Homo sapiens: one gene and its partner. The protein of the gene in region 2 interacts with the protein of the main gene of each other region in a pairwise test. Each region holds a gene or a part of one and is shown on either strand. Other genes may lie near its edges.

Evidence for each region. The genes of interacting proteins can lie anywhere in the genome.
Region 1: the proteins of UMPS (region 2) and PLA2G12A interact in a two-hybrid assay, tested with the Homo sapiens proteins (one large-scale study listed by BioGRID and IntAct).

Annotation. Positions count from the first base shown.
Region 1 is NC_000004.12:109,723,419-109,727,070, reverse strand, and holds part of PLA2G12A (group XIIA secretory phospholipase A2 precursor), read left to right. Parts: intron 1-3,652. UniProt on the Homo sapiens protein: PA2 catalyzes the calcium-dependent hydrolysis of the 2-acyl groups in 3-sn-phosphoglycerides. Does not exhibit detectable activity toward sn-2-arachidonoyl- or linoleoyl-phosphatidylcholine or -phosphatidylethanolamine.
Region 2 is NC_000003.12:124,736,843-124,740,494, forward strand, and holds part of UMPS (uridine 5'-monophosphate synthase), read left to right. Parts: intron 1-725; coding exon 726-1,397; exon of another isoform or gene 1,398-1,601; intron 1,602-3,181; coding exon 3,182-3,357; intron 3,358-3,652. UniProt on the Homo sapiens protein: Bifunctional enzyme catalyzing the last two steps of de novo pyrimidine biosynthesis, orotate phosphoribosyltransferase (OPRT), which converts orotate to orotidine-5'-monophosphate (OMP), and orotidine-5'-monophosphate decarboxylase (ODC), the terminal enzymatic reaction that decarboxylates OMP to uridine monophosphate (UMP).

The DNA.
Region 1 (3,652 bases), on a different chromosome or scaffold from region 2:
CAACCTTTCCTATATTTTGGAATTCAGGTGACCAAATCAGAACCAAACAGAACAATCCCAAATCTGGAGAAACATGGTGATTAAGGGGTATTTTTAGTTGCACGAAAGAGATCAAGAGAGCTTTAAAAAAAAAAAAAAAGAGTGAGTTAATGGTAGGGAGAGGTTGGTCAAATAAAGGGCACATGTCCTTGCTTTACCTGAGGGACTGGCATTATGGAGACTTGCTCCCTTAGTTTTGGCCATCCTCTCTTGGGTAGGAAAAAGGCCTTATTGAGAGTTAAGTATTTAGGGAAATAAATTTGATGATCCGTTATTTTCTTCAACTTTTTTCTCCCTGACAGCAAGGAAGATTTAAGGAAGAAAACTTTTCGATTTCCTTTGAAAAATAGAACACAAAACTGGCTTGTAAATGTTTTTAGAATGATGAATAAGTCATTAATTAATTCAGTGACGTATGTTTTCTAGGATCCCTCTGGCTGTTGTGCTGAGAACAGAAGGGGTCAAGGGAGTGGGGGAGTAAAAATGGAAGCAGGGTGACGCATGCAGGAGTCCAGACAAAAGACGGGTGATTTTGCTCAGGTTGGTAGCAACAGAGGTAATGAGAAGTAGTTGGATTTTGGATATATTTTGAAGGAAGGACCTAAAAGATTTGCTGATGGCTTAGAAGTTAGGTATGAGTTAAGTCAAAAATGATACCACAGTTTTTGGCCTGAACAACTGGAAGGACAGAATTACCATTAACTGATATGGGGAAGACCGTGGAAAGAACAGTTTTCGGGCATTAGGAAAAATAATAACACATTTGTATGCTTTTGAGAATGGTTCAGTGGAGAGTAGAAATACTGACGAGGGAGAGAATTATTGGAGTCATAGCCTTGGGTAAGTGAGAGGGGGTAGTTTCTAGTACATACTTAGAGAGTTTGGCCAAGAGCATATAGCATAGCCCTGTTAATAGGAACACAGGTAGAGGATATGAGCACTGGTGCTGGTTAAGTGGGTGGATGTTCAAGTTCTCCTGATTGCCTGCTTTTTTCAGTAAAGTAGGAATCCAGGTCATCAGCTGACAGAGAAGATGGGGAATGGGGATGTTGGAGATTTGAGGAAAATATAAAAGTGAACAGACTAGAAAAATAAAGTAATATAAGGACCTTTTGGAGATTAATGATCATGAATACTTAAAGTCTCAAGTGTTTGGGAGTGCAGGTTGGAATCTTACAAAACTCTGCCATGAGACCTTTGTGTGACCCAGCAGACTACTTCTTGTGCTTGTCATCTGCTTCATATTCTGTCAGGTGAAAACAGTTGGTCTATCTGGAAGTATTTGCATCAAATTTAGAAAAAATACATGGAAAATAATCAACTTTGTCTCAGTCTATGAAAATCTTTAGATTTCTGCAGTCCATACAAATGATAAACAATCAAGAGAAGGAGCTATTGCTTAAGTCAAAAATGGAAATTAATGAATAGTCTTTCCATGCAGTTGTACACAGTGGATTTGGTTTGTATCCGCTTACAAATTTTAGAGGACAATGGCCGCAACACATCATGGTGTTTTGATGTTACTCTGATTTTGTTTCTTCCATTATTGAGTTTTTGCTTTATTTGTAAAAACTGGCACCAGTAGAAATGCTAATTTTTAAAATGCTTAGCCATTTATAAAACTATAACAAAATTTAAAATATTAATACATTTGTAACATTGGTGTCTGAATCAACTTAACCTCTAATAAAGAACTGTCTATATAACTTGCCTTGTTCAGAAATAACTATTTTAATTTAAAGGTGAATTTAGAATTTCAAAATACTTTAGAATTTCTCAGGAAACTAGTTACTTCCAAGTTTTCAGTTTTTTGCTGTGGATAAAGAATTATTTTAATTTCATCAAAGAATGTTTCCCATTTTTTAATCTGGTAATTTATTGGGTGCCCACTGTGTGCTAAATATCTTCTAGGTGAGCAAGACTAAGTCCTTTCTTCATAGAAACCGACTAATGTTAATGTTAATTAGGTCAATAAATGCTAGAAAGAGAGGGGGTGCTATTTTAGATTGGGTAAGCAGGGAAAGCCTCTCTGAAGAAATGACATTAGGAGTTTGCCTTGAAAAAAACTAAAGAACCATACACATATGCCCCTTTTGCCATTTACACTGGGGAGCCAAACTTTTTACCAGCATTTATTTCATGGTGTTATTATCCAGTTTTTCATGTACAGTAGATGTTGGCTCTTTATTACTTGATTTTTATCAACTTTTCTTCTTCAGACAGTTATAACCACTAGCCCTGTTTGGCACAGCAGCCTCCTACTTCCTTGTACCTCCATTCTCATTTTTGCCAGTTGTCCTTCTCTGTACTATCTCTTCCTCTTTACTCTCCTATGGTGGGCATGTTTTTAGTTTTTCTGACTTCATTTGTGTCTGATCATTCTCCCATTCAAAGGTAATTATCTCTTATGAGAAAATGTCTATATATGTACACGCATGCATACACATATATATGTATCACTGTCATTACACACATCATCAGCATCAGGAATGTTTTTATAGATTTGAAATCAGAGTCTATGGATTTAGATAAAATACAAAAGGAAGGAAAAATAGAAGTACTGCTGTTGTATGTACATTGAGGGAAGTATCTTTCTGATTAAAAAAAAAAGGCCGGGCGCGATGGCTCACGCTTGTAATCCCAGCACTTTGGGAGACTGAGGCAGGCGGATCACCTGTCAGGAGTTCAAGACCAGCCTGACCAACACGGAGAAACTCCATCTCTACTAAAAATACAAGATTAGCCAGGCATGGTGGCGCATGCCTGTAATCCCAGCTACTTGGGAGGCTGAGGCAGAAGAATCGCTTGAACCCAGGAGGCAGAGGTTGCAGTGAGCTGAGATCATGCCATTGCACTCCAGCCTGGGCAACAAGAGCAAAACTCAGTCTCAGAAAAAAACAAACAAACAAAATAAGACAATTGAGACACATGTCTTTAAAGCCATAGGCCCATATCGGTTGTCTGAGGGTGGTAATCTTTGCTTCTCATGGAACAGGGTGAGGTGCCAGAAATCTCTAGACTGGCAGATGGGAGGGAGGGAGAATGTACAAGGTGTCTAAAAAGTTGGAAACATAGGATAAACATTATGTTTTATTTTCAAATGACACACTCAATATGTTTTTCATTAACCACTAGACACTTTTTTAGATGATATACTTCTAAATTTAAAACAGTCCAGTTGTTAACCTGAACAATATATATTGTAAATACACTATTATTCCTGTTTCCAGACTTTTTGAACATTCTCTGGTGTATTTATTGTACTTTTTTCAGATTAACAACTTGACCTATTTCTTAGTGTGTATCTCTAGATATGTTTCTAAACATTTTGAACAGTTGATTGTCAAAACCCCTGACGAAAGAGAGTTTCATGATGAAGCTTGAGGAACTAGAATGGGCTTCCCAAGAATTAAATGCTGATCCAGCCTCCTTTTCTGTGAAGAGATTTATAGTGTGTTAGGGCAAAGAAAACTATAGATAAATGTATAGTTTCTCATGATACTCCTGTGAGAAAAACTGGTTACTATTTGATGACTTCACGGCTGCTTGGAGAGAGGACTCATCTGTAGTGGACCTCTGTCCTGATTAATATCTGCATCTTAAGTTTGTGAAT
Region 2 (3,652 bases):
TTATCTGAAAATAGTCTAGTGGGATTTGGGTAGAGAAGTATATATTTAATCACATTGCATTATATAATTCTTTAGATTGTAGTAATGGGTCTAAATGATTGCTGAATATTTTTCCTTCTGAATTTGTGTCTTCAAAAAGTCAATTATTTGGCTGATCTTGAATAGTGAACTTAAAATACTTTGATGGAAAAAGGAATTATTTCATTCATGATACTGGATTATTCTGTTTCATAACTTTCCTTGATCTAGGTGATCTTGCTGTAAGAAACTCTGTATTTAGGCTGGACGTGGTGGCTCACACCTATAATCCTAGCATTTTGGGAGGCTGAGGCGGGAGGATCACTTGAGCTCAGGAGTTCAAGACCAGCCTAGACAACATAGTGAGACCTCATCTCTATGATAAAACAGATTTTTTTAAAGTAAAAAAAAAACCTCTCTATTTGAAAATTTGATCATAAAACACATTAAGCAGTGTTTATAATGTGAAATAATTTACTTGATTTACTATAAATATACTGTATGTGTAACTGGCAAGTTTGGTATACAGAGTTGGCTTTATACATAAATATACTGTATGTGCAACTAGCAAGTTTGGTATACAGAATTGGTATACACATATACTGTATGTGTAACTGGCAAGTTTTGTATACAGAGTGTGTGTACGTATATACGCACATATACATACATATTTAAATTTGGAATCAGCAAAATTTTTTCTTTTCTAGGAACTAAGCGTCTTGTAGAAGGAACTATTAATCCAGGAGAAACCTGTTTAATCATTGAAGATGTTGTCACCAGTGGATCTAGTGTTTTGGAAACTGTTGAGGTTCTTCAGAAGGAGGGCTTGAAGGTCACTGATGCCATAGTGCTGTTGGACAGAGAGCAGGGAGGCAAGGACAAGTTGCAGGCGCACGGGATCCGCCTCCACTCAGTGTGTACATTGTCCAAAATGCTGGAGATTCTCGAGCAGCAGAAAAAAGTTGATGCTGAGACAGTTGGGAGAGTGAAGAGGTTTATTCAGGAGAATGTCTTTGTGGCAGCGAATCATAATGGTTCTCCCCTTTCTATAAAGGAAGCACCCAAAGAACTCAGCTTCGGTGCACGTGCAGAGCTGCCCAGGATCCACCCAGTTGCATCGAAGCTTCTCAGGCTTATGCAAAAGAAGGAGACCAATCTGTGTCTATCTGCTGATGTTTCACTGGCCAGAGAGCTGTTGCAGCTAGCAGATGCTTTAGGACCTAGTATCTGCATGCTGAAGACTCATGTAGATATTTTGAATGATTTTACTCTGGATGTGATGAAGGAGTTGATAACTCTGGCAAAATGCCATGAGTTCTTGATATTTGAAGACCGGAAGTTTGCAGATATAGGAAACACAGTGAAAAAGCAGTATGAAGGTAAGTGTATTATTCAGGAATCTGCAAGAATCAGAAATCCAGCTTAAACTGAAGAAGAAAAAGGAAATGCTCATGTCATTGAAAGTCCATTCATAGAGCAGGCTGTCAAGCGTGGTTGGATCCAGGAGCTCAAGTGATATCTTCATGACTTGCTTTCTCTCCATCTCTCAGCTCTGCTTTCTTCTCTGTTGACTTCTTTCTCAGGTAGGCATACTCTGCATGCTCACCCCAAACCAATCACTCTAGCTTGGGATGTAGAATACCTTCATTAACTAGCCTGGGCAATTTGCTCTGCAACTGTGAGGTTGTTAACTCTGTATGACCTTCTTGAAATAAGAACCAGTCAGGGATAATTTCCTTAAAGAAAATGGATGTGCTAGTACCAGAAGAAGGGTATGTGCCTGGGCAAGCAAATTTGACAGATGTCCTTGGCAGAATATGATGTTTTGAATGAAAATTCCACATAAAGGAAACAATGAAAAAGAAATATAAAATGGTAAGATTTATTTGTAGCAGAAAAAGTTCTATTGATAAACATTATTTAAAGATTTTTCTTTTATCAAATAGGGACTCAAAGTAGTGCATGTGTTGGTTGAGAAAAATGCTTAGTTCTACTGCCTATTCTATGCAAATTTCTGTCTATGTTTTTACAACTGTGTGATCAGACTATATTTAATGCATTTTTCACTTAACCTGGTAACAGATATTTGGTTGTGTCATATAACATTTTTTGTAGGCATCTTTGAGGTAACTTTTCTTTAATGTATGCATGTTCATAAGCTATTTCTTTAAAATAGATTTGTCTTTAAGTGACTTCTTCATGTGCTTAAGATGTCCTGCCCTCATCACATTGCCTAGCTTACTTTAGCTGATTGACTGACATAAGAGTTTTATACAAACTTTCTTCAGCTCTGCATAGAGTTTTTTCGAAAATCAGGCTTGTTACTGTCCGCTTTTAAAAGGAATATAGTTGCCTATTGAAATTAGATAGCTAAGGAGATCTAAGGAACACGTAGAAATATTGAGCGATAGTAAAGCTGCTGAGAGACCCCTGCAGAGTGAAAACTTGTCATCTTCAAGAAGAATTTTATTTTTATTATTATTTTTTTTGAGATGGGGTCTTGCTCTGTCGCCCAGGCTGGAGTGCAGTGGTGCAATCTTGACTCACTGCAACCTCCACCTCCTGGGCTCAAGTGATCCTCCCACCTCAGCCTCCCAAGTAGCTGGGACCACAGGCATGCGCCACCACACCTAGCTAATTTTTTTGTATTTTTGGTAGAGATGGAGTTTTGCCATGTTGCCCAGGCTGGTCTCGAACTCCTAAACTCAAGCAATCTGCCCACCTCAGCCTCCCAAAGTACTGGGATTACAAGCATGAGCCACCATGCCCAGCTTCAAGAGGAATTTTTAAATGTTATCCTTGACATCAATAAATGTTTATCTTCACTGGAGTCCCTTTCTAATAGCATGAGCTTTATTTGTGGTCATGAGCTTCAGCCTTCAAGGAAAAAGAGTCCTGTTAGTGTTCCAGATAAGCCAAGTGCAGACCTTGAAAGTTTTTTCTCATTGTGATCTCTCACCCAGCTACTTACCTGAATAACAGATACAGTTTTCACAGATGGAACCATGGGTCTGCTGATAATCACTAAAGTTCCTGAAGAGTTTTGATTCTCTCATTAACATGTTACTGGGAGATTATTTCATATTGTAGTTGGTTGGTTGGACAAGACGTTAGAGGTTTTGTTTGAAAATCAGCAAATATCTTTTTTCCCCCTTCTTCTTAGGAGGTATCTTTAAAATAGCTTCCTGGGCAGATCTAGTAAATGCTCACGTGGTGCCAGGCTCAGGAGTTGTGAAAGGCCTGCAAGAAGTGGGCCTGCCTTTGCATCGGGGGTGCCTCCTTATTGCGGAAATGAGCTCCACCGGCTCCCTGGCCACTGGGGACTACACTAGAGCAGCGGTAAGTGGTGGGGGGACTGGGTGAGAGGGGGCAGGGGCTGCTATGCTGCATGCTGCAAGAAGATATCTCCTAATCTGGCGTTTCTGGAACCTCTGCCAAAAAAAAAATCCAGCTCTTGTTAGTGTGACAGTATATTAATACTAGTTGGATAGAATTCCTTGATAGTTAATAGCATTTTATATCATGTAGTGGACACTTCAGGAATTTGAATTATACTCCAAGAGAAACTTTGAGACCCAGATAGTTAGTCAAACAAACACTTACTAAATCTACCAGGACTTTAAGATAATGTCTT